Linked DNA regions of Homo sapiens: region 1 is linked to region 2. Evidence: fine-mapped expression QTL. Tissue or cell type: testis. Region 2 holds a variant in brackets; the other region holds the start of a gene. All regions are shown on one strand. Distances are between the middles of the regions. Region 1 holds the start of LINC00658 (long intergenic non-protein coding RNA 658). Region 2 overlaps LINC00658 (long intergenic non-protein coding RNA 658).

What was found. PIP is the estimated chance that this variant, and not a neighbour inherited with it, causes the effect.
Region 1: it holds the start of LINC00658, and the variant in region 2 is fine-mapped to the expression of LINC00658 in testis (GTEx, PIP above 0.99).

Annotation. Positions count from the first base shown.
Region 1 is chr20:5,442,157-5,457,391 of GRCh38, reverse strand. It overlaps LINC00658 (long intergenic non-protein coding RNA 658), which reads left to right and starts at 11,644. Exons shown (of 5, transcript NR_038240.1): 1 at 11,644-11,888.
Region 2 is chr20:5,424,669-5,439,903 of GRCh38, reverse strand. It overlaps LINC00658 (long intergenic non-protein coding RNA 658), which reads left to right. Exons shown (of 5, transcript NR_038240.1): 2 at 2,631-2,804; 3 at 5,499-5,732; 4 at 5,834-6,115; 5 at 7,266-7,947. Among named protein-coding and RNA genes, the nearest start is that of LINC00658, 13 kb to the left of the region's middle. The variant G/T (reference allele first, on the strand shown) is at 5,614.

The DNA.
Region 1 (15,235 bases), 17 kb before region 2:
TTCTCAGCAAACTATCACAAGGACAGAAAACCAAACACCACATACTCTCACTCATAGGTGGGAATTGAACAATGAGAACACATGGACACAGGGAGGGGAAATCACACCAGGTGGGGCCTGTTGGGGGGTCGGGGGCAAGGGGAGGGAGAGCTTTAGAAAAAATACGTAATGCATGTGAGGCTTAAAACCTAGATGACAGGTTGATAAGTGCAGCAAATCACCATGGCACACGTATACCTATGTAACAAACCTGCAGATTCTGTACATGTATCCTAGAACTTAAAGTAAAATTTAAAAAAAAATACAGGTTTCCGATAACTTTAGAGAGCATACCATTGGATTATAAAAAACTTCCAGGGCTGTAATTAAAAAGCCAAGGCTGGGAGCAGTGGTTAACATCTATAAGTCCAGCACTTTGGGAGACTGAGGTCGGTGGATTGCTTGAGCCACAGGAGTTCGAGACCAGCCTGGGCAACATGGTGAAATCCTGTCTCTAAAAAAAATACAAAAATTAGCCAGGCATGGTGGCATGTACCTGTGGTCCCAGCTACTTGGGGGACTGAGGTGAAAGGATCCATTGAGTCTGAGAGTTCAAGGCTTCAGTGAGCTGTGTTCATGCCACTGCACTGCAGCCAGGGCAACAGCAAGACCCTGTATCAAAACAAACAAACAAAAAAAGCTGATGCATTCATGAGGATTGCTAACTCAATATCGAGCAGAACAAGAGTTAATTACATGGGACTAAACTAATAGAGGACTGAAATTTTTTTCTTACTTTTGGGTTTGAAACATTGCTAATTCTTTTGTTTTCCAGTCCAGAAAACTTTTTTTTTTTTTTGAGACAGAGTCTTGCTCTGTTGCCCAGGCTGGAGTGCAGTGGCACAATCTCAGCTCACTGCAACCTCCACCTCCCAGGTTCAAATGATTCTCCAGCCTCAGCCTCCAAAGTAGTTGGGATTACAGGAGCGTGCCACCACACTCAGCTAATTTTTGTATTTTTTAGTAGAGATGGGGTTTCACCATGTTGGCCAGGCTGGTCTTGAACTCCTGACCTCAGGTGATCCACCTGCCTCGGCCTCCCAAAGTGCTAGGATTACAGATGTGAGCCACCACGCCCAGCCAACTTTTTTCTTTTGAACTGTTTACAGCACACAACAAATTAAGTAAAGTATACTGTTTTGAGCAATATTTAAAGCATATTTCTTTCCCTCTAGCTGATTTCTTCAGAATTTGGAAACTATTGTGAGTGTTATTAATTTATGGCAACATGGTTATTTGCATAAGTTCAATAAGAATCTGTTTTCTTGTGTAACAGGACACAATTAGAGACACTGGTTATTTTTCCAAGGCTTTAATTGGAATGGTATATATTCAGATATGACCAGAAAGTTTTGAGGAATGGAGGTTGACTCTACAGAGCTAATAAAAATCCATTGGAAAGACTGGCCTATTACCTTGTCTATGCAATTCCTTTACAAAGTTCCTGACCCATGTCACTTTCTAATGAGCCCGGGAAACTTGAGTTATTTTGAGACCTTGAGAAAAGAGAAATTTTTTTTTTTTTTTTTTTGAGTTGGGGTCTCACTCTTTCTCCCAGGCTGGAGTGCAGTGGCATGATCACAGTTCTTGTAGCTTCAACCTCCAGGACTCAAGTGATCCTCCTACCTCAGCTCCCCAAGTAGCTAGGACCACAGGCATGTGCCACCACACCCGGCTAATTTTTTTTTTTTTTTTTTTTGTGGATAGGGTGTCTCCCTGTGTTGCCCATGCTGGTCTTGAACTCCTGGGTTCAAGTGATCCTCCCACCTCGGGCTTCCAAACTGCTGAGATTATAGGCATGAGCCACTGTGCCCGGCCTGAGAAGAGAGGAATGTACCCAATTTGTACAGGTATCTGAGGGCACAGATAAAACCTTGGATTGGCTAACCTCAAGAGGCTTTTAAAAGTCTAATCTGAGATTCCTTAGGAAAAGTTCCAGCAAAGCCAGTTGAAAAGGGGCCTTGTCTGGTCACGGTGGCTCACACCTCTAATTCCAGTGCTTTGGGAGGCTAAGATGGGAGGACTGCCTGAGGCCAGGAGTTCAAGACCAGCCTGGGTAATATAGTAAGACCCATCTCGACAAAAAATAACTGGGCCTGGTGACGCATGCCTATAGTCCTAGCTACTCGAGGCTGAGGTGGGAGGATTGCTTGAGCCCAGGATGTTGAGGCTGCAGTGAGCCATGGTTGTGCCACTTCACTCTTGCCTAGGTGACTATTAAAAATTAAAAAAATAAAAGAAACCTATACAGCCCAATCATTATTCTTGCTGTGCCTTATGCAAATAATCAGGCCAAGGATAATGAGACTAAAACATATTTTGCAAATAAATTGGTCCTAACATGATTCGTTTTTTGTAGAAATGGGGGACTGGAGATTAAAAAAAAAACATATGTTTCAAAAGAAACTATAGTACACTTGTTATTAGATTCTACCTTTGAGGAGGAGGAGGAGGATTATTATTATTATTGAGATGGAGTCTTGCTCTGTCGCCCAGGCTGGAGTGCAATGGCACGATCTTGGCTCATGCAACCTTCACCTCCTGAGTTCAAGTGATTCTCCTGTCGCAGCCTCCCAAGTAGCTGGGATTACAGGTTCGTGCCACCACACCTGGCTAATTTTTGTAGTTTTAGTAGAGACAGGATTTCACCATGTTGGCCAGGCTGGTCTCGAACTCCTGACCTCAGATGATCCACCCACCTCAGCCTCCCAAAGCGCTGGGATTACAGGCATGAGCCACGGTGCCCAGCCTTTGTTCGTTATTTTTAAGATCTTATTATTTGTCTACAGTTTAGACTGGATCCTGAACTTTTTCCTGGCTATACACCTCTAAACTAACATTAAAATTTTTTTTTCTTTTTCTCCCCTTTTTTTCCCTGACTTGAAATTACTAGAAATTAAAACTGTGCTTTTCTTAAAGCTCTGCAAACTAATGCTATATACCTTAAGCTTTGGGAGAAATAACAGCAACTTACATATAAGCAACTGTTTTGCCTGCTGATGTATGCACTTTTCAGAAAGTTCATTTAAACACTTGATTCAAACTACAGTCCAGAAAAACCTGTCAGATTGCTGCTGTAATGAAAATGCTTCAGAGACTCATAAAAAACTAACCTAGGGTTAGAATAATGATTGCCCAAAGAATATATATATATATATATATATATATATATATATATATATATATATTTTAGTATTTATTGATCATTCTTGGGTGTTTCTCAGAGAGGGGGATGTGGCAGGGTCGTAGGACAATAGTGGAGAGAAGGTCAGCAGATAAACACATGAACAAAGGTCTCTGGTTTTCCTAGGAAGAGGTCCCTGCGGCTTTCTGCCGTGTTTGTGTCCCTGGGTACTTGAGATTAGGGAGTGGTGATGACTCTTAACGAGCATGCTGCCTTCTAGCGTCTGTTTAACAAAGCACATCTTGCACCGCCCTTAATCCATTTAACCCTGAGTTGACACAGCACGTGTTTCAGAGAGCATGGGGTTGGGGGTAAGGTTATAGATTAACAGCATCCCAAGGCAGAAGAATTTTTCTTAGTACAGAACAAAATGGAGTCTCCTATGTCTACTTCTTTCTACACAGACACAGTAACAGTCTGATCTCTCTTTCTTTTCCCCACATTTCCCCCTTTTCTTTTCAACAAAACCGCCATCGTCATCATGGCCCGTTCTTGATGGTCGCTGTCTCTTCGGAGCTGTTGGGTACACTTCCCAGACGGGGCAGCCGGGCAGAGGCGCTCCTCACATCCCAGACGATGGGTGGCCGGGCAGCAGCGCTCCTCACTTCCCAGACGACGGGCAGCCGGGCAGAGGCGCACCTCACTTCCCAGACGGGGCGGCCGGGCTTAGGCATTCCTCACCTCCCAGACGGGGCGGCCGGGCAGAGGCGCTCCTCACCTCCCAGACGGGGCGGCCGGGCAGCGGCGCTCCTCACCTCCCAGACGGGGCGGCCGGGCAGAGGCGCTCCTCACCTCCCAGACGGGGCGGCCGGGCAGAGGCGCTCCTCACCTCCCAGACGGGGCGGCCGGGCAGAGGCGCTCCTCACTTCCCAGACGGGGCGGCCGGGCAGAGGCGCTCCTCACCTCCCAGACGATGGGTGGCCGGGCAGCAGCGCTCCTCACTTCCCAGACGATGGGCGGCCGGGCAGAGGCGCTCCTCACTTCCCAGACGGGGTGGCCGGGCAGCGGCGCTCCTCACTTCCTAGACGGGGCGGCCGGGCAGAGGCGCTCCTCACCTCCCAGACGATGGGTGGCCGGGCAGCAGCGCTCCTCACTTCCCAGACGATGGGCGGCCGGGCAGAGGCGCTCCTCACTTCCCAGACGGGGTGGCCGGGCAGCGGCGCTCCTCACTTCCCAGACGGGGCGGCCGGGCAGAGGCGCTCCTCACTTCCCAGACGATGGGTGGCCGGGCAGCAGCGCTCCTCACTTCCCAGACGATGGGTGGCCGGGCAGCGGCGCTCCTCACATCCCAGACGACAGGCGGCCAGGCAGAGGCGCACCTCACTTCCCAGACGGGGCGGCCGGGCTTAGGCATTCCTCACCTCCCAGACGGGGCGGCTGGGTAGAGGGGCTCCCCACATCCCAGATGATGGGTGGCCAGGCAGAGATCTCCCCACTTCCCAGACAGTGTGGCGGCCGGGCAGAGGCTGTAATCTTAGCACTTTGGGAGGTCAAGGCAGGCGGCTGGGAGGTGGAGGTTGTAGCGAGCCGAGATCACGCCACTGCACTCCAGCCTGGGCAACACTGAGCATTGAGTGAGCGAGACTCCGTCTGCAATCCCGGCACCCCGGGAGGCCGAGGCGGGCAGAACACTCGAGGTCAGGAGCTGGAGACCAGCCCGGTCAACAGGGCGAAACCCCGTCTCCTCCAAAAATACAAAAACCAGTCAGGCGTGGCGGCGCGTACCTGCAATCCCAGGCACTCGTCAGGCCGAGGCAGGAGAACCACGGGAGCCCGGGACAGGGAGGCTGCAGCGAGCCGAGACCACGGCAGTACAGTCCAGCCTCAGCAACAGAGGGAGACGGAAGGGAGGGGGAGGGGGAGGGGAAGGGACTGAATATTTTAATTGAAGACACAGTCACATAGCTTAAATCAGCTTCCAGGATTACTTTCCCTTTGTTGCTGTAATTTGGCATTGGTCCTTTTCTGATGTAATTTCCCCCTCTCTAGGATGTGACCACCTAAGAGGGAGGCTTCATGGTGACATAGGATTGGATAAACCAATAAACCACAATCTCGTGTCTTCCTCAACGCTTTCTCCAAAAGCTTTGAAGAACAGGGGGAATGTAAAGGAAATTTAAAAATGTCAGGACCTCCAAACTTAAGCCCAGATGCTGAGTCATGCAACACCCACTTTCAAATGAATACCTGTTACTAGCATTATGCATCAGCCAGATCCCCATGGAAAGGTAAAAGGCCTCAAGCATCTACAAAGCCCTGCCCCCACAGATCATTCATAAGTAAATTCTCTGCTGGCCTCCTATAAGCAAGGGAAACAGGAACATAGGAGAGCCAGGGTGACACCATTTTAAAATGAACTCCATTTGAAAACCAGGAAGGCACATTCTTTGCCAATCACAAACTATGGTCATAAGATTTTTCAATTGAGGAAACAGCCCAAGGATACCTACAAGGACACAATCCTACAACAAAAGAAAGTCCAGATGTCTCAATACCCATAATAGTATATGCTTTCAAGATAATTATAATTATGCTTTGATGCACTCACACACTAAAGTGTCAAGGATAGATTCCTTTCCTTCTCTTTTCTTTTCTTTCTTCCTTTTTTTTTCTCTTTCTTTCCTTCCTTCCTTTCTCTTTCTTTCTTCTCTCTGTTTCTCTCTTTCTTTTTTTTTCCCAACAGAGTCTCACTCTGTTGCCCGCGATGGAGTGCAAATGGTGTGATCTTGGCTCATTGCAAACTCCACCTCCCCACAAACTCCACCACCCTGGCTCAAGAGATCCTTCCACCTCAGCCTCCTGAGTAGCTGGGGCCACAGGCGTGTGCCACCACGCAGGCTAATTTTTGTATTTTTAGTAGAGATAGGGTTTTGCCTTGTTGCTCAGGCTGGTCTCGAACTCCTGAGCTCAAACAATTTGCTGGCCAGTCTCCCAAAGGGCTGAGATTACAGGAATGAGTCACCGCACCCAGCCAATAGTTTTCTTTTTTTTCTTTTTTTTTCTTTTCTTTTTTTTTTTTTTTTTTTTTTGAGGCAGAGGATCGCTCTGTCGCCCAGGCTGGAGTGCAGTGGCGCGATCTCCGCTCACTGCAAGCTCCGCCTTCTGGGTTCAAGCCATTCTCCCGCCTCAGCATCCCGAGTAGCTGGGACTACAGGCGCCTGCAACCACGCCCGGCTAATTTTTTGTATTTTTAGTAGAGATGGGGTTTCACCGTGTTAGCCAGGACGATCTCGTTCTCCTGACCTCGTGATCCACCCGCCTGGGCCTCCTAAAGTGCTGGGATTACAGGCGTGAGCCACCGCGCCCGGCCTTCTTTTTCTTTTTAATTTTTTTGTAGAACAAATTTTATTTTAAAAATAGGGACGAGGTCTTGCTATGTTGTCCAGGCTGATGTTGAATTCCTGGGCTCAAGCAGTCCTCCCACCTTGGCCTCCCAATGCTAGATTACAGGCATGTGCCACCAGTAGTTTTCTTTAAATCAACAGAATAATAAATTTGGTCATGCTTCCAGCCCACCCACACAGGTAGACACAGCTTAGTTCAGTCTCCACATAGAGAAGACTCCTATATACGAAAAATGTAAAGACGAGGCATTCCTCCGCTTGCTTTCTGAGGACACCCTACCCTGTATTTGAGTAGCCGTCAATAAACCTTCCCTCCCCACTGAACTCTGTGACTTGCCTGGAATTCCCTCCTGCACGAGATCCAAGAACTTTCTCTTAGGGTCTGGATTGGGACCTCTTTTTTTTTTGGCAACACAAGGACATGCCAATTGTAACTTTAGGTCTACAAACTAAGTCTAGTTCTTAATTTCTTTTTTTTTTTTTTTTGAGACTAACTCTCATTCTGTCACCCAGGCTGGAATGCAGTGATGCGATCTCGGCTCACTGCAACCTCTGCCCCCTGGGTTCATGCGATTCTCCTGCCTCAGCCTTCCAAGTAGCTGAGATTACAGGTGCATGCCACCATGCCTGGCTAATTTTTTTTTTTTTTTTTTTTTTGAGAAGGAATTTCATTCTTATTGCCTGGGCTGGAGTGCAATGGCGTGATCTCAGCTCACTGCAACCTCCGCCTCCTGGGTTCAAGCGATTATCCTGTCTCAGCCTCCTGAGTAGCTTGGACAGGCATGCGCCACCACACCCAGCTAATTGTTGTATTTTTAGTAGAGATAGGGTTTCACCATGTTGGTCAGGCTGGTCTCGAACTCCTGACCTTAGGTGATCCACTTGCCTTGACCTCCCAAAGTGCTGGGATTACAGGCATGAGCCATTGTACCCGGCCTTAATTTTTGTATTTTTAGTAGAGATGGAGTTTCACCATTTCATCCAGGCTGGTCTCGAGTTCCTGACCCCAAGTGATCTGCCCGCCTTGGCCTCCCAAAGTGCTGGGATTACAGGCGTGAGCCACCGTGCCCAGCCTAGCTCCTAAAATTAAAGTTGATTCCATGCTGATAATGTTGATCGCAAGCTTAGATAGAAGTGCAGGTGCAGAATAAAGACAAGACTCATTCCTATACCTACCCAGAGACATCTGCATACTTGACTCTTCCTTTACTCTCTTTTTATTTTCAAACATCCAATTTGTCTTATGTAAAATGTAGATTTACCAGGCAGCAGCTAGAGTCTCACAGGAATGTAGCCATTCGCCTTACCACCTGTCTGCCCTTTTTCCTAAAAGCCTTTCCCCCATTTAAGGAAATGTGTAAATACTAAATCCCCTGAAACTCTCTTGAGAAAAACAGCCACAGATGTACCTGTGGCTTGTATTTTTCCCGGAAGCACCCTCAAGCTGACTTAATAAACCTCGATGATTGAGATTTATGCCTTGGTCATTCTATTCAGATGTCAGAAGGACCCATGGGAAGACTCAGAGAGAAAGGTCTGTAGGAAGAGGCTAAGGAGCCCAATCTTCTCCCAGAAAATGGACGCTTCGGGTGGTCATGAATTGTAGGGCTATTGGTACTGGGGTGAGTAAAGAGGAAGAGAAAGAGAGCAAGGCCCCAAGGAGAAGGGGAAACAGGGAGGGAGGAAGGGGCCATGCCCTGTCCTCCCCTCCTCCAGTGTCCCTGCCCCTCTCCAACTTCAGAATTCCCATTGCTCCTTGAGAACTCAGACACTAGCTTCCCCACCAAGGCCTCCTCCCTCTGCATTCCCCCAGCCTGTCCATTCTCGGTCACACTGACTCCGAGTCTGGTCAGCTGCCTGTATGCCTGTCTCACCCAGTTAACTTAAATTCCTTGGGGTCAGGAACAATGCTTTCTTCTTATTTTCCATGCCACAGCTCCAGTTACTGTGACTGACACACAGAAATATTGGCTTGGAGTCGATTATCTCAGGGATGCAGCTCAAAGTAAATGTGTCTTGTATAGAGTGGGCATAGGGATGCTTTAATGAGGAACGAGCAAGTCCCAAGAGGAGCAAGGAAAACTTGAGCTGCAACCACTTTGCATTTCAGATGATGAATTAGAGCGGTTGTTATCGAATCTGCCACCAGAGGGCGATCCAGGTAAAAAAGATCTTCGGGCTACTCTTCAGCCCGGTGACCTGATCTTCCCCCAAACTCAGATCCTTGCTGCCTCCCAGAAACAGCAGACACCTAAGTCCAATGTAGCTTGCCAGGATCTCAGGGAATGAAATTTTATAGTTTGCTGGCATTTTCCTCAGGGGAGCAGAGGCAAGAAAACAATCAAATCCAAGTTTGCGCCACTGCACACCAGCCTGGGCGACAAAGCAAGACTCCCGTCTCAAAAAAAAAAAAAAAAGAAAAGAAAAGAAAAGAAAAGAAAAGAAAGAAAACAATCAAATCCATGGTCTGCTGTTTACTGGATGAAGAATAAGACTGCCTAAAGGCAATGTGTTTAGTACAAAGGTGTCATAAGCTCTGAGATGGTTCCTGCTTTACCAATTTCTGGAAGTGTGACATTAAAGCAACCATTCTCTTTTCTGGGCCTGGTTTTCCTCTGTAAAATGTCAGTTCAAGTTCCAGCCTGTCTTGGGATGTCATCGGCCTTTACAACCTACTTGGGCTATGGCCCTGCGATTAAGTGCACAGTGGAAGCTTAGTCCCCTTGCTTTTCTGCCTCTCTTAGGGAACCACAGTCACAGAAACCAGCACTTGCTGCCATAGGAACTGCTAATATCTTGGACATTCCCTGTATTCTCTCCCAGCCCAAACAGGCATAGCCAGAGGAGTGAGACATGCAGAAAAATGAAAGAAGCCCAGGGCATTGTTCAGCAGTGAGCCTAAAGTCTGTACATGCGATAGCATAATATTTGTGAAAATTCTTGCAAAATGCAAAGCTGATGGCATATGACTTGTAACTCATTCTTGTATATAACAGTAGATCAACATGCAACTGAAGAAAGCACTACTCAGGATGGAAGTAGCCTTGGGAGGGAGGCAAGGAGTAGTGAGGAGGGAGAGAATGAGCTGTTTCTGTAACATTTCATTTCATAAGAGAGATGGATGGACTTCAAGCATCTGTGGCAAAAGGTCACCTCAGATAAATCTGATTGGTTCCAAATTATTTTCTGTAATCCTCCCTATGTTTGACTCATTATTTTAATTAAAAAGAAAAAATATTTAAAGTAATTTTAAAAATAACAGAGCTCACCAGCCCCTTAGAGCGCAGCTTGGTCTAGGGTAGTTTCTTTAACTAGCAGAGCTTTCTGTAGATACAGACATGCGTTCACAAAGTATCTTTAGGTTTCCCAGGCCCGGAGGGGTGAGATAATACTAAGGGAGGGAGATCTGCTCTTGGAGGAGGGACCTGCTCTAACCAGCCCTGTAGCTCTGCAAATCTTTGGGATTTTGTCCTTATCTGTAAATAGGGATGACGTTTGTCCCATTTATCTCATTCAGTTATAATGTGCATCAGATAAGATGATATTTGTAAAAACAACTTGAAAATACAAAATGATGTACACAGGTATTATTTAGTTGTGAAGCTCTAAGTCCTGAGGCCTCGTTTATATTAACAATAGCAATAAAAATAACAATACAGACTGGGCGTGGTGGCTTACACCTGTAATCCCAGCACTTTGGGAGGCCAAAGCGTGCAGATGACGAGGTCAGGAGTTTGAGACCAGCCTGGAGAGTATGGTGAAACTCAGTCTCTACTAAAAATACAAAAATTAGCCGGACATGGTGGCGTGCGCCTGTAGTCCCAGCTACTCGGGATGCTGAGGCAGAAGAATCGCTTGAACTCGGGAGACGGAGGTTGCAGTGAGCTGAGATCTCACCACTGCACTCCAGCCTGGGTGATAGAGTGAGAATCTGTCTCAAAAACAAACAAAAACAAACAAACAAAAAACAATACAATGGCAAGGGAAGAAATAAAAGGAGGGTGTCTAATGTGGTAAGGAGGGAAGGAAAAATGAAGAAAGAAGAAAAACCTATTGAAAATAGCCAAGAAAACAGCTGCCCTTCTAAGATACTGACTTGAGGGCTTTCAAAATAATGGAAATTATGCTTCACAAAAAATAATCCCAATGGTCATGGTCATTAGAATTTAGAACAATATTTATATGGCTCCCTGTGGTGAATCAACAATTATTTTCTATGGCTTCAATTTTCAGAGTTTAAATAATGAACATAGCAATACCACCAAAGAAACATTCATTAAATATCAATATAAAATAAAGTGGAAGAAAAAGAGAAAAACAGCAAGCTGCTGATTGCAGTGTTTGCAACCGAGACTCTGTTCTGCAAACCCTGGGGGATCAGCGTGGATTGAGCTATTACTAGAGGTTGGGGTTAAACACGGTAGGCTATAGACTTTCTGGGGGAGAAACCAGTCAATTTCTATTCTGAAAACCTGGCACTGCCTAAGAAAATCCAAACCCTTCAAACAGAAGCTTCGCAAGAGTGTAGTTAATGGCATAAAAGAGTGCTCAGAAACTCACCCACAGAGACTTTCTGATAGCTGATGCCAGGAACAGCAAAAAGCAGAATGTCCAGTTAGGGATAGTTAACCAAGCCCCTCTCAATTCTTCTTCTTGAGGCTATCCTCTCCTCACTGGTCCCCATTTTATAATCATGCTCAAGGAGCCTAGGCTTCTCTTCTTCTCTTACAGCATGTTTAATATCACTACTTTATCCATTCTGTACTGTTGCAGGCTGAAGGTGACATTACACTTAGAGGGATCCACAGATTCAAGAGGCTGCTTGGGGAGGGCAGCACAGTGAAGTACAAGGACTTTGACATCAGAGAGGCCTGGATTCAAGTCCCAATTTCTGTGTGTGGTAACCAGTCTGCAAGACAGCCTGTGATGGTTCCTGCCTCCTCGTATTCATGTCCTTCTTAGTTCCCTTGCGCATTGAATCAGGGCTGGCTCTGGGTGACCAATAGAATGTGGAGGAAGTGATGGGGTGTGAATTCCGAGGCTAGGTCACAAAAGGCATTGTATCTTCCACCTCTTAGATCTCTCTCTCTGCGGAAGCCAGCCACCGCTCTCCAAGGACTCTCGAGCAGCTCCATCTACAGATTCACATGGAGAAGAATTAAGGGTTCCTGCCAATCACCAGCACCACTTTGCCAGCCTTGTAAGTGGGCCACCTTGGAATTGGAGCCTCCAGTTCCTACTGACATCTGACTGCAACATCATGAGAGACCCTGAGTTTGAACCACCCAGCTGAGCTGCTTCTGAGCTAACCCACTGAAACCGTGAGAAATAATTATTGTTTCAAATCCTAAATTTGGGAGTGATATGTTATATAGCCATATTAACAAGAACTTAACCTAAGTATTGGGGGCATTTAGGGCTGATATTCATTTGGGAGGCACCTGTACAGCTGTATCAATTGTTCAATTATTTAAATATTTCTAAGTTGCTTGGTAAAAAGTCCTGTGCTTGAATTAACCTGATCTTGAATTGCAAGCTCCCTGAGGTGCCTTGCAAAGACAAATCAAATCCTCCTCAGAGGAAGGTAACATTATCCTTGCCCTCAAATTATTTCAACAAGTATTTTACAAATACCATGTTCAGCACACAACCAAAGATAAACTGACATATGGTTAAAAACAGAATGTTTTTAGACACCCAGAAGACATCCTTCACTGAGGGCTTATGTGATAGAAAAATTAAGCATATGATGACAATGGATTCAGTGTATGGCCCGGAGAAAGAAACCAAAAGTTGGGAAAGGTGTAAATGGCCCTAATGGGAAAGGAAAGAGGCTTCCATTGCTTCCCAAGACTGGGACCCATCTCTAAGAATCACAGAGAACAAATCTGTCTCCTTGCTGTTCTCCAGAGGGTAGTTGGACCTCAGATGGGTTAACCAGAGAACCAGGACCCCCAGAGCGCAAACTCCCATTTTTCTGAACATTCCCATGTCCAAGTTTGTCTGGAGAACATCCAAGTTGCCTCTTCAAGGTAGCCGGCGCCATGGACCTTTAAAAGGGACCAAAGTGTTCAGAGGACCAGGAATCCTTACTTGAATGTTCTAGACTGCAAGACACCTAGAGATTCGTAGAAAACATGACTGAGGGAAAGTGCTCCTCTAACCTGAAGGATGGAGACTTAGACCAGCTAGTATCAGATTGAGGGGAAAAAATGAGGTTTTGTTTTTTTTTTCACCAAGTATGTAAAAAAATTAAAACCCACTGTAGAATATTAGCAAGATCTTCAACAAGTCTCTCATTATACAGATGAGGAAATTAAGAACCAGGAGGTTAGAAATTCAGTCCCAGCATGCTGACTCACAGAACATATGTGGACTTTTCTTATACTCCACTGCTCTGATGAATATTGTTAAACACTATTTCTTCCTTACTCTTAGGATATCAGGGCCTTGAATGTCACAGACTACCTGGCACTTGTTTCCCAACAAGCTAATATTGACCCACACAAACTGAAAGCCTCAATTTGACATTATTTGTAGCATCCCCTTGTCCTTTTCTTTCTAAACCCAAATTCCAGTATCCACTGCAACCTTCTAGGTAGGCATCCGCAAAAGGTCTTTCTTCTGATCCTGCCAACTCATCATGGTGCATGGTTTTGAGTAGTGCCATAGAGAATATCTTAATTTCTCTGAGCTTTAGTTAAGAGTGATATACACTGGAAACAAGGAGCTTCCTGCTTCCTCTTTGTAAATTTTGATAAGAGATTCCCCAGTGGTCGGAATTTGCCAGGGACCCCCAGCCCCATTCATGCATGAGCTCTTTATCCCTAAAGATGATGAAGGAGAGCCTCAGTGCCTCTCTGCCAGTCTTGGGAGGCAGGAATGATCCAAATAATTTCAAAGATTTCTCCCAACTCTAAGAACTCTGGCCATATAGGGGGAGGAATGCATTAATTACTAAAAATAATTTAAAAAATGATTTAGTATAATTTCTGGGGTGCCTACTCTGTTTTACCAACTACCCCTTCCACCTCCATCTACCACCATGATTTTCATTATCTTCTCTGCACCTCCATGGCAACCTCTGTCGTGGTCTGGAGAAACTTAGCCTTCAATTCCAACTATCTGTCAAGACCTGAGCAAGTCCACTAACTCTTCTGAAACTCAGGCTCTTCAGTAAATGGGCCTAATGAAGAGGAAAGAGGCTTCCATTGCATCCCAAGACTCAGACCCAGCTCTAGGAATCACTGAGAACAAATTCATCCACATCCACTTGCTGTTCTCCAGAGGTAGCTGGACTTCAGATGGGATAACCAGAGAACTAGAACCTCCAGAGCCCAGAGTCTTATTTCTCAAAATTCCCATGTCCAAGCTTGGATGGACAACACCCAAGTTGCCTCTTTAAGGTGGCCTGAACGATGGACCTATAAAAAGGACCAACATGTTCAGAGGACCAAGCATCCTTACCTAAATGTAAGGCTCTCTTCCTGCATCATGGCATTACTGTTAGGAGGGACTGTATTAGTTTTTTTTCACACTGCTATAAAGAAATACCTGAGCCTAGGTAATTTCTAAAGATGTTTAATTGGTCCATGAATCCACAGGCTGTACAGGAAACATGGCTGGGGAAGCCTCAGGAAACTTACAATCATGGTGTAAAGGGAAGCATGGAGAAGGGGAAGCAGGCTTGTCTTACATGGCTGGAGCAGGAGGAAGACAGAGAGGGAGGGTGCTACACACTTGTAAACAACCAGGTCTCATGAGAAGTCTGTCATGAGAACAGCACTAGAAGGATGGTGCCAAACCATTAGAAAGTGCCCCTATGTCCAATCACCTCCCACCAGGCCCCACCTCCAACATTGGGGATTACAACTGAACATGAGATTTGGGTGGACACACAGATCCAAACCATATCAGATAGTAATGAACATGGAGGAGCAGCCCAGTATCCAGCACAAAGGCCCTCAGTAAACAGAAGACTCAGAAGGAGGGCCACCCTGTCTCAGGAGCACTGATTGGCCTGCCCTTCTTTCCTTCAGCCTCCTGGAGGGCAGGGTCTGTGTCTTCTTTATCTGTACCCCGAGCCCCTAGTCCTCATGGCTAGTAGGCACTTCACGAACTCATTACTCCAACATTAGAGGTAGAGAACCGGGAGAGTGGCTAAAAACAAGATTTAGACTCTTTAAGCAGGTAATATAGAAACACAGCCAAATGTTCTTAGAGATGAGTTGTACTTTTCAGCTTTACTTGGCCTTTTAATATGACTGTTACTGCTTTAGCATATGTCAAAATAATTGACCAAGATGGGCAAAAAGTCACTAAGAATGAAAGCACTTCCATTAAGGAATATTTTATTTTCCATGAGGTCTTTGAGAGCTTAGAGAGAAATTGAAGCAATAGTGAAATAATAGACAGTAGACTGCTGCAATTAAATGTGATTTACCACAACTTAAGTATCACTTTCAGATAGTGTCAAATTAAAGCATTTAAGAAGATTGCTGAAAATAGGAGACTTTTTTCTTATCTAAGTGAAATGCTGGCACACGAGGCCTCCAAAGGGAAACTGCCAGATGCTGCTTTATGTGCTTGGCGTGTTTGTGCCTAACATCTCCATAGTGTTTTTGAATTTTACATTATCTGCAAAATTGCCACTTCATTAGAACTGCCT
Region 2 (15,235 bases):
GCAAAAGAAACTATCATCAGAGGCTGGGCACGGTGGCTCACACCTGTAATCCCAGCACTTTGGGAGGCCGAGGTGGGTGGATCATGAGGTCAGGAGTTTGAGATCAGCCTGGCCAATGTGGTGAAACCCCGTCTCTATTAAAGATACAAAAAATTAGCCGGGCATGGTGGTGCACACCTGTAATCCCAGCTACTCGGGAGGCTGAGGCAGGAGAATCACTTGAACTTGGGAGGCAGAGGTTGCAGGGAGCCAAGATTCCACCACTGTACTCCAGCTTGGGCAACAGGGTGAGACCCCATCTCAGAAAAACAAAAAAAGAAAAAAGGAAACTATTATCAGAGCAAACAGGCAACCTACAGAGTGGGAGAAAATTTTTGTATTGTATTTATCTCACAGAAGTCTAATATCCAGAGTCTACAAGGAACTTAAACACATTTACAAGAAAAAAACAAACAACTCCATTAAAAAGTGGGCAAAGTATATGAAAAAGACACTTCTCAAAAGAATACATTCATGCAGCCAACAAACATGAAAAAAAGCTCAACATCACTGATCATTAGAGAAATGCAGATCAAAACCACAATGAGATATCATCTCATGCCAGTCAGAATGGTTTGTATTAAAAAGTCAAGAAACAACAGATGATGGCAAGGCTGTGGAGAAATAGGAACGCTTTTACACTGTTGGTGGGAATGTAAATTAGTTCAACCATTGTGGGAGACAGTGTGGTGATTCTTCAAAGACCTAGAACCAGAAATACCATTTGACCCAGCAATCCCATTGCTGGATATATAACCAAAGGAATATAAATAATTCTGTTACAAAGATACATGCACACATATGTTCATAGCAGAACTATTCACAATAGCAAAGACATGGAATCAACCCAAATGCCCATCAATGATAGACTGGATAAAGAAAATCTGGTATGCATATACCATGGAATACTATAAAGCCATAAAAAGGAATGAAATCATGTCCTTTGCAGGGATATGGGTGGAGCTGGAAGCCATTACCCTCAGCAAACTAATGCAGGAACAGAAAATCGAACACCGTATGTTCTCACTTATAAGTGGGAGCTGAACAATGAGAACACAGGGACACAGGGAGGGGAACAACACACACAGGGGCCTGTCGGGGGGTTAGGTGTGGGAAGGGAGAGCATTGGGAAAAATAGCTGATGCAGCTGGGCTCAATACCTAGGTGATAGGTTGATTGGTACAGCAAACCACCATGGCACACATTTACCTATGTAAAAAACTGCACATCCTGCATGTGTACCCCAGAACTTAAAATTTAAAAAGAATGGATATAGATATAAATATGTAAGTATAGATGATATAAACATATTGATATGGGTGGCAAGGTAGGAAACTATTAGTTTCATTTGTAAATTTAAAAAGCAATACACCTACACAGAAAAGAGGATTCAGCCTGGGGTTCAACAAATTAGTGTGGTTTATTCCAGGCTGAGGTCAAGGCTTGCTGTGGTTCAAGTGCCTAAAGTTTATTTCCCAGGAAAAAATAAAGTGGAGATTTAAAAGCAGTGGTCAGAAAGGATAACTTTTTTTCTTTTCTTTTGAGACAGAGTCTTGCTCTGTCACCCAGGCTAGAGTGCAATGGCATAATCTCAGCTCACTGCAACATCTGCCTCCCAGGTTCAAGCAATTCTCCTGCCTCAGCCTCCCAAGAAGGTGGGATTACAGGCATCTGCCACTGCACCCAGTTAATTTTTGTATTTTTAGTAGAGATGGGGTTTCACCATGTTGGCCAGGCTGGTCTTGAACTCCTTACCTCAGGCAATCCACCTGCCTCAGCCTCCCAAAGTGCTGGGATTACAGGCGTGAGCCACCAAGCCCGGCCAGAACATTTTTGCAATTAGCAAAAGCCAAGGTGAATTACAGTTGATAGTTTGCATGAACAATATTTGACAAGCTTGATAAAATATGTGGGATATGAACACTTTGTTGATGACAATTTACATCAGATCTTATATAAAATGTTAATATTTTATCTTTTATTCTATAACTAACTTACTTTTTTTTAAACAAGTGAAATGTTTGTTTGTATAGACGTGTGAACATGAAGTTCCTTTTGTGTTGATATAACATCCAGTTGTTTGTTTATTGGTTAAAAATGATAATGTTCAACCCCATTGAAATGAGGGGAGGCAGAAAGATGCTGACCTCAGTAACTTTGGAAATGTTTTAGTGTGTAATACTAAAGGTGAAAAGAACTGAATTTAAGCACTGTACTGTAGTTGATAATATTGCTTCCCATGGGTCAATAATTCTGATACTCATATATATATATATATATATATATATATATATATATATATAGAGAGAGAGAGAGAGAGAGAGAGAGAGAGAGAGAGAGGAATTAAATAATTGAGTAAATGAATGGCAAGTGTTGGGAACAAGATTTCTCTCTTTTGGGGTGAAACTTTACAGATAAGCAAGGGAATCAGGAGAATAGAATGATCCATGTGGTAAAGGATTACAGTTGGAGAGATCAGTAGGAACTCATGTCTAGCTTAATATAAATGTAAATGGTTACACATAGAAATATTTATAGATATGTTTTATATACAGGTGAGTATACATTCATATATTTCCTTGCTTTGTGAGGTGAAAGTACCTGAATGAAACAACACCCAGTAGCCACTAGCACACCTAGCTCCCAGATCTGTTTTTGATGCCATTCTTCAGTAAAAGGAAGCAAGGCTGCTTGGAGAAATTGCTATCAAGGACTGGGGTAGAAAATATACAAGATGAAATTGGAGCATCTTGTAGTGCTTGAAAGTAAGGAAGTGTTGTTTTTGTTGTTGTTGTTTTAAAAAGCATTGATGGGAATATGTCAAAAGGACCGCAGAAGAGCTCTGTGTGTGTGAAAGAGCTCCCAATGACAAAACTGGAATGATTATTTAATTGACACATATTAGATATACATATTTTGGGGGTACGTGTGATAATTTGATACATCCATATAATCAAATCAGGATAATCAGATACCATCACCTTAAATATTTATCTTTTCTTTACACTAGGAACACAGCTTGAACAACAAAATAAATAAAATGATGGTGGATTATAAAACAAACTATACTTGTATAAATAAATTACTGAATAAATAAATAAATAGAGAAGATGAGGCAAATATCCCATGTTGAAGAATTCCAAATAATTGATGTAGATACTGTGCTCTCAAGGAGGGGGGCATAAATTTTCACTCCTAAGTGTGGGCTGCTCATAGTGACTTCCTTACAGAGAACACAGTGTGGTAAAGGGACGGGGTGAAGGGTAACCTTGCCGTGGAGAAATCTGACAAACACGTCTTCAGCCATCAAGGTCAACATCAACAGTGAAAGGTCATGTTGTTAGTATGTTCCCTTGATATGTGATGAAAATGGCACGTTACCTTTGGGGTCCTCCTCCTCAAGAAACCAGCCTAATCATGAGAAAAGTGTAAAATTCCAATAGACGGGCATCCTACAAACTACTTGACCAATATACCTCAAAATTATTAAGGTCATAAAAAAAGGAAAGTCTGAGAAACTGTCACATCCAAGAGGAGCCTAAGGGAACATGGTGACCAAGTGTTATGTGATATTCTGGATGGGATTCTAACACCTAAATAGGACATTAGGTAAAAATAAGGAAATCTGAGTAAAGCATGGACATTAGCTAATAATAATAACGTATCAATATTGGTTCATTAATTGTAACAAATGTACCACAGAAATTTAAGATGATAGCCATGGGGGAAACTCGGTACAGGCATATGGGAACTCTACTGTTTTCTCAACTCTTCTGAAACTCTAAAACTGTTCTTTAACAATTCAGTCTATTGTTAAAAACTCAAACAAAATGATACGGGCTATAGGCTGGATTACAATTCAAGGCTATGGACATACACAGAAGAATATTATTAACATTGATTTGACTTATTAACAGCAAAGGTATTTAATTTTCCGAAAAGATTTTCAATTGACCAACTTAAACACTTTATTCTCCAAGCATGATCTACACAGTTTGAGAAATATAATAAGAGAAACTGATAAGGTTTTTTCAGCATTGCAATAATCACCTTAGCTCTTACCTGCCTGTTTAATCCTTACAATAACTCTAGGAGGAATATGCTGTCTCCATTTTAAAGATGAAGAAATTGCAGTTTAGTCGATTGCCCAAGTTTGGACAGTTAGTAAACAATAAACAAAGATTTGAACTTGGGAAGTGTGAATTCTATACCCACAGTCTTAACCCTATGCTGCACACATACCAACATTAACAGCTGAAAATATTCCCAATAACTGAGTTGACTGACTTGCTATATGCTGTTATCAGCAACATAATAGTTAGAAATTGATGGCAGCTATTATGAATAAGGACTTTTGCTTTAGACAAGTTGATTTGTAGATTATTTTTCTGGCAGAAATTTGAAACCAGAGAACTGTTGACTATTGGATATCCTATGATTTTTTTTAATAGAGACGGGGTCTCACTTTGTTGCCCAGGATGTTCTTAAACCCTTGGGCTGACGCAATCCACACGCCTCAGCCTCCCAAAGTGCTAGGATTACAGGTGTTAGCTACCACACCTGGCTATTTTTTAAAAATCATAAAATGTGTGAAAAAATTACCATGTCAGTAAAAATTCCCTTCACACCAGAATTTGGCATAGTGTAGAAACAGGTTATTATTGAACTTAGAACATCAGGTTTTTGCCTGAAAAATTATTTCTACTTATCAAGAAATGTTCTTGAATGGAAGTGAACATTATGTCCAAGGCACTGACCTTTCATAAAAATAAACTGGAGAAAAATGCTTTTTTGAAAATAAGGACATTGACCTCACTGTTGGCTACTCTTAATGTGTTGTGTGTGAAATTCTGATTAAAGTATGATAACATTTCAAAAGTGTTGCTTAACCTAGTATACACTTTCAAGATATAATCTTTGACTGAGGAAGACTCAGTCTAGCGAAAGTCTTTTCTATAATGTGAACATGACTTTCAGACGAAGATGGTGATGGTACCATCAATATTTTGCCTTAAGAAACTTAAGAACTTAATACAAAAAATTTAAATGTACTCCCTTTAAGGGAAAGCCACCAGCAATTTCTAAACTTAAAGCAGGAAGATGAAAGGATAGAATAAATTGTGCCTTATATTCTACAATTCCAGAAGAAACATGAGCCCAACTCCGGGGTTGCACACAGTCATGCCAGTGTGATTTGGGGAGGAATCCTGAGGCTCCAGCCCTGGGCTCCAAGTTTTGATCCCTCAGCATTGGGTACAGAAGGCAGATTGATGCTGCTGGTGTGGAATTTCCTGGGGCCTGACTTCACTAACTCATCACATCTCATCATTCTTCCGTTCTCTCCTCTCTGAGTCCTTTTCTTCAGCTGTTGCACCATTTCTACTTTGTTCAGAGGGATAATGCTGGAAGGTATAGGATGTCAAGTTCACTCTGCTTTTATTTTTTATTCCCTTTGGCAGACAGTTGGCATCTGTGTGAAGATGTGAATGGAGGAGGCAGAGTAGGCAGTGAGTGCCGCAGCCACAGCTTGTGTTCTCTGCAGCCCTGGCACAGAAGATAGGAACACTCATGGGG[G/T]ATGCGGCCACTGTGATGTCTTCCCACACAAGAAGTGCCAAGTGCTTTTCTCATGCTTTTCTGGATTGTCCCATGGTGGACGAGTCAGCAGGAGTGAGATGGAGCAGCACAGTAGAGGGGTACCTGGCAAGGCCCGGAGGGAGGACCCCCTGCCCCAAACATTTCAATGATATCAGGTGACAGCCGTGATCCTCTTAGCACCTGCTCTGTTTTGTCCCAGGCCAGGATATCGTTGTACATATTCTCAGCTAAGTGAGCACCAATAGAGGAGAGGGAGAGTCTCATGGAAGTTCCTTCTAAGCCTTTGGCTCTTTTTACCTTCAACAAGGTGTGCCACCTCTTTGATCCAGCAAGTGGGAAGAACAGTCCCGGCCTCTTTGCACACAAGACCGTGATACCAATGCACCATCACAGGCCCCACAGGGGAGCTGTCCGCTTCCCCACACAGCTGCTAGGGGCTCTTTTGCATGTTCCCAACCTTTCCTGCCTTTATCTGATATTCGTAAGTACAATTGTAGAAAAGGGAAGGGCTTTACTAGTCAGCAAGTGTCAGCAGGTTGAGGATCCTCTAAAGGCATCTTGGAAAATCAAGGAAGGAGACACATGCCTAATTCCTATGCTCTGTTACCCTGGCCTCCAGCAAAGTCTACCCTCATATCAGAGAGACCCATTGTAGATAAATATGGGCTGCCAAAAGCAAGACAAGCCTTGGGCAAACTGCCCAACAGATGGTTCAACTCTGTGTGTACCAGCCAAGGGCCAACGTGTCAGACAGTAGCTTCTGTTTGTGCCTTAAGTCGGAGTTGTGAATATAAGATAATTCCGGGATGGCAGGGATCCCACAGTTATGGATGTGGGATGGTTTAGTTCCATCCAAGACAAACTTAGGACATCCTCTTTCAGGGGTTTGAATACACAGCTTTCTCTGCTACCCCCTCAAAGCGTTGGCCACCAGAGCGGAGTGGTTAGAAGGGTGAAGGGCTTTAGACAGGAGGGAAGGAATGTCCTTGCATGGCTTACAGGATGGGGACCCTAGCCAAGATCTTGGTGCTTTGGCCTGCAGGCAGCATCAGAAGCCAGCCCAGGGAGTGGGGCAGTGGCCTTGTACAGAGGGCTAGTGGTGGCTAAATTTATGTGTCAACCTGACTAGGCTAAGGGATACTCACACAGTGGGTGGAACATGATTCCTAGGTGTGTCTGTGAGGCTGTCCCCTAGAGGTTGGAATTGGACTCAGTGGATTGGGTGAAGATCTGCTCTCACCCGTGTGGGTGGGCACCGTCCAATCCACTGAGGGCCCGAATAGAATAAAAAGGTGGAGGAAGGATGAATTCACTCCCTCTACTTGAGCTGGGACATCCATCTTCTCCTTGGACATCTGTGCCCTGCTTCTCAGGCCTTCAAATCCTGGGACTTACACAGGCTCCCCCACCCCCTGTCCCCCCAAGGCTAGTCCGATTCTCACTCTGTTGGACTTGAACCAAATTACACCACTGGCTTTTCTGGTTCTCCAGCTTGCAGCCAGCAGATGGGAGTACTTCTCAGTCTCCATAACCACATGAGCCAATTCCTATAATAAATCTCATAGCTATTGATCTATAACTATTTATTCTCTGGGAAACCTTTACTAATACAGGGCTCTTGTTTCCCTCAGGTTCCTTAGATCCTGGGATGAGGAGGTGGACCAGCAGAAGGTGGGCTTGTGAAGGCAGCCCGGGGTCCAAATCCTCCTGGCTCTTCAGCTTAGCGGGTTAGTTAACATTCAGAAGCCTTCATCTCCCATCTGCAAAATGGGCATGTCCAACTCAGAAGCTGCCTTGAAGAAAGGGTCTACCCAGCATGGTGCGTGGAGCCTAAGCAGTCAGTACTTCAGGACTTCACCCGGCCCCTTTCCAATAACTGCTGCTGTCGCCCTCACAGGATGTCACCTTCAGCGTCTGAAAGCTGGGTTTGATGCGTCTGGAAAGGCGTCCCTGACAGGCGTCGTTGCCAGGAGCCCCTAGTGCCACCAGCAGCCAGCAGGGGAGGGCGTCCTCTGCCCGCTCACTTCTGACCCTTCTCTCGTTGCACCCGGAACATGGTGCAGCTGGGAGCAGCCTGGGCTGCGCGGAAGGCTCAGATTTGGGGACGGCCCTTGCCAGTGACTGTGAGCTGGGGTGTCTTGGAAACTCCCAGTCTCAGCTTCTCCATTTATAAGATGAGAATGATCATACCAGACTCAGGCAAGGTTGTTTGTGCATTAGTGAAATCAGACGTATTAAATAAAGTACCACATTGATCGTGGAGTTGTTGAATAACCAAGAACACGCCTATCTGTCTCCAAAAAATAAATGTTGAAAATGATGAGGGCGTGGCTCTACGTTGGGAAGGGAAATAGGGTGCTTGGATGAGAGAATCCTGAGGCATGGGACAGTGGAGGGATCCAGGATAGTTCCATAAGAAAATGTGCTTGCACTATCGTTTCTTTGCAGAGGCTCTTGTGTGCTGGGAGGCTGGCTGGGATGGGGAGTTGGTGGCAGAGAATAGTGTCTGTTTTCTTCCTGGTAGCTGGAGAGCTCTGCGACAGAGGACTGAGGTCATTAGGAACAAGCGGGCAGGTAGGGACAGGCGTTGGAGTGGACTAGCCCTGGTTCCCCTGAAGCTCTCTGGGGTGGAGGTGAAGGAGCTTCTAGGGCAAAGTTTGCCAGTTAAGGAGGAGACACTGTTTGGGCTGCTCCCCGAAATGGAGAACTTTTGTGTGTGCCTGGAGTGTTTCTATTTGAGAAAAACTATTTGAGAGGTGGGAAGGTGAATTATTTACCAGTAAGTTTATCCTTCTCTCCTCAGATTCTGCAGAACTTGCAGACCCATAAACAAATTAGAAATTGCTTTTCTCCTCTTGCTTAACCTAAATTTCTTTGTGGAAGCTGAAGGAAAATATGAGTAATTTTCTAACATATTCAGTTACAGAGACAGCAAAGAGAAATATTCAAGAAAAAAAAAAAACAAACCCTGAGGTGCTACTGACTTCGTGTATGTCTTAGCTGTAGACAGAATTGGGATTTCCTAATATGGGTTTGTTCCAGTACAGCCCCTCAGAAAGATTTTCATCAGCAAAACACACATTGGAGGACCAGCTGCTGTGCAGTTGTCTCTTTTAAACCATTTTCTCACTTCATTGCTAATTTTCCCAGCACCTTTCTTCTAACAGTTCTACATTTTTGATCTGCAAACAACCTGAGATTATTTCTTTCCCTCTTGGTAAATAAAAGAAATTTAAAGTAGATTCTAGAATGGGTTAGACTGTTTTATTCCAGATCCCTCAAAAAGAAGGGATAAATACTTCTTTAAAAGAATCCCTTTAAAAGAAGGGATAAAGTTTAAGCCATAAATACAATAAATGGTGAACTGCCTGGTTAACTGAGGGCTGATTCCCGGAGACGCAACCAGGGGGAGCTTCCTGAGCAAGGTAGCTACTCCCTGCCAAGGTAACCACAGCTTTCTAACAATAAGTAAAATGTTTCTACTCATATCATAGGGACCCTACAACAACATGGCCCTTTTCTCTCTGCCATGCAAAAAAGCATCAAGAAAGTAAGAAGGGGCATTTTTGAGAACAAACTAGAAATCTTAGCATCATGTCTTCTCTCTAATTATGTTGGAAACAGGCTTTGAAAAAGAAAAAAACTGAGGAGAAGATCACTAAATAGAATTCAATAAAAATGGCTTTTGATATTCTGTAGCTTGAAAGCATTTGTATTGGGTTTATGTTCTCATGGTTTTTGTTTCAAAGAGTTTAAGGTAAATTTGAATGTCCCATTCCTCTGAGAACTCAGAGAAAGCCAGGTTGATTAAGAAGTAATTAAGAGGCTGGGCGCGGTGGCTCACACCTGCAATTCTAGCACTTTGGGAGGCCGAGGCGGGCCAATCACCTGAGGTCAGGAGTTCGAGACCAGCCTGGCCAACATGGTGAAACCATGCCTCTACTAAAAATACAAAAATTAGCCAGGCATGGTGGTGCATGCCTGTAATCCCAGCTACTTGGGAGGCTTAGGCAGGAGAATCACTTGAACCCGGGAGGCAGAGGGTGCAGTGAGTTGAGATCGTACCATTGCACTCCAGCCTGGGTGACAGAGCCAGACTCTGTCTCACACACACAAAAAAAAAAAAAAAAAAAAAAGTAAGGCCAGATTCAAGCTTACTTCTTAGGAAAAAAAAAAAAAAAGGTAATTAAGAACAGGTAGACATTTTAGATAAACTAGCTAATTAGCATTCATAGTTCCTTAAGTTTTGCTCTAATAGTCTGTTATGTTTTGCAAGTATATGATGTGCATATGTAGATATAGTAGTTTATCATTAAGCCTCACCTCGTGATTATTAAATGTGATACTTTGCTCTTTTAATACTTGCAGTTCCTATTTTTAATGTGCAACAAAGTGCACAATTTTCCTTTGGTTCCAGGGAATTTGGTTAATGGAAACTCAGCTATTTTTCCCTAAGTCCCTTTTAGTCACACAAAGGTAATTCACCTGAATTTTCAGTAAATCTCACGGGAGAAAAGAATCAACTTTGGTGGTTCTCAACCTAACTTTTTTTTTCCCCAACCCAGTTTTTGTTCGGCCTCCACCGCATTTACCAAGTAGAGTAGCAACTGTGGAACTATTGCATTCTTTCTACTGAAAAGATACTATTGAAAGGAGACAGAACTTGATCTATAGAAAAAGGGAAATCATTCTTTGGGTATGGAGGCCAAAGGAATTTCAAAGACTACAACCTGCTATTAAACTGCTATATAAAGAGAAGAGCAAGTATTAAACAGAACCCTGAGACACTCGAATTTAGGAACCCGCATTGACCTTACCCTACAATTATTCCCCAATGAGGAGTGATGAGTGGCAAATGACAGTCCCTGACTGGGAGAAAGAGGCAGGTTCAAGACATAGTCTCCCTTATCCTGGTATCCTCATCTCTAAAACATTCACTATTCTTTTTTTTTTTTTTTTTGAGACAGGATCTTACTCTGTCACCCAGGCTAGAGTGCAGTGGTGGGATCTCTGCTCACTGCAACCTTCACCTCCGAGGCTCAAGCTCTTCTCCTGCCTCAGCCTCCTGAGTAGCTGGGAGTACACTCACCTGCCACCATGCCCAGCTAATTTTTGTATTTTTTAGTAGAGATGGGATTTCACCATGTTAGCCAGGCAGGTCTCAAACTCCTGACCTCAGGTGATCTGCCCACCTCAGCCCCCCAAAGTGCCGAGATTACAGGCATGAGCCACTGTGCCTGGCCTAATACTCACTATTCTGTCTCTCTCACCTTACGGGGTTGCTATGAAGTTTAGTGAGTTCAGGTATGTGACTCTAGAGGGGGCTGAGTATGTATAAGGTAGGGACCATGTTCTTGATGACTTTTGCATCCTCCCAGCACAGCTTTTGTGGAACTGTACTTTAGCTCTGTGATGGCACATGTGAAATGAAATAAATGTACACAATAAAGAAAAACACAAATGAATGTAAGACACATTTTCCAGTTCAGATTAATAAGAAGAGGCTTAGTTCTCATCTCCTTCCCCCAAATTTGACTTTACAGGGTTGCTTAGACTCAGTGGTGTGCTGGAGCAGGCTCCTACCAGCTAGAAAGAACCAGTTCAATACGTCTCTTCTCAACTCCATGTTCAGAGTTGTCAGGTTGGTAGCTTGAAACTGGCCATGCTGGAAGTATTTACAGCATGAAAATTGGCAGGTGCTACATATTATGGCTTTTTTTTTTTGTTTCAGAGAACCAATTGTTAAATATTTACTGGCACTCCACTGCTTAGATTTTACCAGTGCTTGTAAGTAATTTTCGTTTGATTTTACAGACTATGGTATCCATGAGTGTTACGGTTTTAGGGGATATGGAGTGAGCTGAAAACCAAAAGAAAAGCTCCATTCATTCACTACTCACAAATGCATCTTTGCCACTTCCCACAGACAGTATGGAGACAGACATGGTCTTAGGTCCATTCGCATTAGTCACCCTGCACAGAGACTGTGGACTGTAGTGCGTGCCTTGATTCTAGTGAAGGCCTCCTAAAGTCACAACTCTGAGAGGAGATTTGAAGCTAGGAGACCTAGGTTCAAGTTCCTTCTGAGCCATTACCAACTGTGTGATCTTTGTCAAATAATCTGATTTCTGTCATTTGAGCTGATTTCTTTGGATTGCTCATTTGTAACATAGGATAAATACTTATTTCACAGGCTTGTTAGAATAAATGGGATATTGCATGTAAAACACTCAGCATGTGGCCTGACCTATAGTGACCTCTAAATAAAAGAAGGGCAGCTATCCATCAAATTACCACGGTCATCCCAATGCTCGTCATCATGAAGGGATCATGGGTAGTCACCATGGTTCATAACTATCCGTGAAAAGGCCTTCTAAGGTCACAGGTGATTGAACCATGGTTTACTTACTCCATCTTTTTGTTTGTTTGTTTGTTTGTTTTTGAGACAGAGTCTCCCTCTGTCACCTAGGCTGGAGTGCAGTGGCATGATCTTGGCTCACTGCAACCTCCACCTCCCAGGTTCAAGCGATTTTCCTGCCTCAGTCTCCTGAGTAGCTGGAATTACAGGCACCTGCCACCACGCCCAGCTAATTTTTGTATTTTTAGTAGAGACAGGGTTTCACCCTGTTGGCCAGGCTGGTCTTGAACTCCTGACCTCAGGTGATCCACCCACCTCGGCCTCCCAAAGTGCTGGGATTACAGGTTTGAGCCACCATACCTAGCCTACTACATCTTTATAAATCCCTGATAATCTTAGATTCTCTACTGGAGCCAAGAAATCTCTTTGGGCTCTCTTTTCCCTTGATAAAGCTCCATAGAACAACCAGGTCAAACAACAGGTCAAATATTAGCATTTTATAGCTTTTAAATATATCATCCAATTAATTTAAAAACCATCATATCTCACTGTTGCTTAATAAGAAAAAGGAACAGAAGGAGGAGACCAAAATATTACCAAATATTACTAAGATGGAGCGTGTAGTTTAGTGCAAGAACTACATGGGCCTGCTTAATAGGACCTCAGAATTGGACAGACTTGATCCCCTCTCTCAGGCAGTGCTAACCAGGAGCTCATCCCTGGAGGAGAGGCAGAGAATGTGTACTCCCAGATGCAGCCAGCTTCCAGAAGAAGAGGTAGGAGCCAAGCAGAGCATGCCCACATCAATCTTCCAGCATTTAATGGCCATAGAAGTTACTGAACCTCCCTTGGATGGATAGAAGATGGCATTATCTTTCTTAAATATGATACCTCTTATCTTTTTGTTCCCTTGACACTTGAGGAGGGAGGCCAAGGGTTGATCATGCAAGCAAGTTTGTGCATTTTGCACATTTATTAAGTTATGCTTTTGAGGAAATTAAAAGATCACAAGGGCTTCAATTTTCTGTGACCCTTTTATTTACTTATTTCAAAAAGTGCTCAATGGGAAATGCCTACGTATTCTCCCCAGTGCTCCCATGTGGGGATATGTCCTCAGTCCAAAGATATTCCTCAGTCTAGGAGTTCACAGTTGGATGGTATAAACAAGTGTATTAACTCATCATTACAAGACCAAGTGACAAATGCTGTTCTGAAATATGACTAAGGGGCTATGGGAGGATACTTTATCTAGGAACATCTGAAAAGACTTTTCAAGGGAAGTCTTTAAGGATGAGCAGGCCTTTGTCCATAAGAGCTTTCTGTAGCTTCTAAATAGATGGTGATATAGATACATCCCAACATTTTTCTCCATAGGTGTGTTTCACTGGAAGTTGTAGGGGAGAGCTCCTGTTAATGTCTCTTTACCTTTCATCTCAGCCCTGTGTCCTACTCCATTTGTCTTCTGATAGCCAGTTATAGATAAACTATTAACACTCCACACTCTGTGGCTGCCAAAGCATTTGAATGAAAAACCAACATTTCAGGAAACCACAGTGGGTCATGGAGGCTTCTATTTTACCTACGTTGTACCTATCAAAGTGGTTTCCAGTCCTTTAGTTCAGGGGTCCCCAACCCCCATGCTGTGGACCAGTACTGGTCTGTAGCCTGTTAGGAACTGGGCCACACAGCAGGATGTGAGTGGTGGGCGAGCAAGCATTACCACCTGAGCTCCTCCTCCTGTCAGATCAGCAGCAGCATTAGATTCTCACAGAAGCACAAACCCTATGGTGAACTGAGCATGCAAGGGATCTAGGTTGCACGCTCCTTATGATAACCTAACTAATGCCTGATGATCGGAGGTGGAACAATTTCATCCCCAAACCATCCCTCCTACCCCCATCCCTGCCCCCATCCCAGTCCATGGAAAAACTGTCTTCCACAAAATCAGTCCCTGGTGCCAAAAAGATTGGGGACCACTGCTTTAGTTCATTTGACTCTTCATTTCCCCAGTAACACAGGCAAGACTGACATCCATTTGCAACCCCCAGTGCCATGCTGCCCATCTCCAGGGTGCAGTCTGTGTTGTGTTGGGCAGTGCCACCATGGATTGCTGACCAAGGAAAACACTTTCCTTTCTCTTTGCCACTCAAACCATCTCCCAGAGCCCCATGCTGCCTTTCCATCCTCATCCAAGATGATTCCATGACCCCTACCCCTACTCTTTCCCATACTTCAGACCCTCTCTAGGAAAACCCATCTTTCTACTGTCCCATTCTTTAGGACCCAACTCTCTGTAAGAGATGAATGAATGCATGTCAAGGGGTTAGTGAGTTATTAACAAGTTGGTCCTTTTCAGATTAATCTGGTATTTTACTTGGGCCTTCCTGGAGGCTGGACTTTAACCCAGAGAAATGAGTGAGGCGGGAAATTCCAGTTTGGGAACTGACAGCCTAGGCAGGGGTGATGGTGGAGATATTTTGGCATAGGAGGGTATTTAGGGCATCTGTAGCCTCCGATTTTACATAGTCATAAACAGGAGACTTGGACATTTAGCAGGATTATAGTTTGGGTCTCCTTAACAGGAGCCAAAGATATATTTGCAAACTTATTGAATACACACACACAGAGACACTGACAAAAATATTAACCTGACTTTTTCTAACTAATTATGTCTATATGGAGGTGGTTCAAATGCTGGTAGAAGCATAAAAGAGTGATATGATTTTTGTCTGCCTTTGAAGGTGGGTTTAATTGGTTATTTGTGCTGAGTCTGGATTGCAGGGGAAATAAAATTTGGATTTTCATCTACATACGATTTTAGTCTCTACATATTACAATAAAAGGTTGGGATTTGTCTTCTTTTTTTCCTTTCCCATCTTTTGCAAACAAGTTGCAAATGATGGGAAGGAAGCTCTCAAATGATCTTTCCAATTTCCAGTCATCATATTTCCACAATTCTATACCAAGAATAGATCTGGATCTTACTTTTCTTAAGGTCTGGCTTTAAATTAAAATATCCCGAAAGGCTTATAATAAAAAACCACAGTCTCCTGCCTCCAAGTTCTGCTCCCCAGAAACATTTACTTTTAACTCTTTTCATCATTTCTTCTGGTTGTTTCCCGCATTTAAAAAATAACATAATTGAGTCATAATTTTATGATTTATCCACATTAAACTCTATTAGCTCCCTGTTATGCCAGGTGAGGAGTTAACTTTATATATCCCCCAATCCCTTCTTCTCAA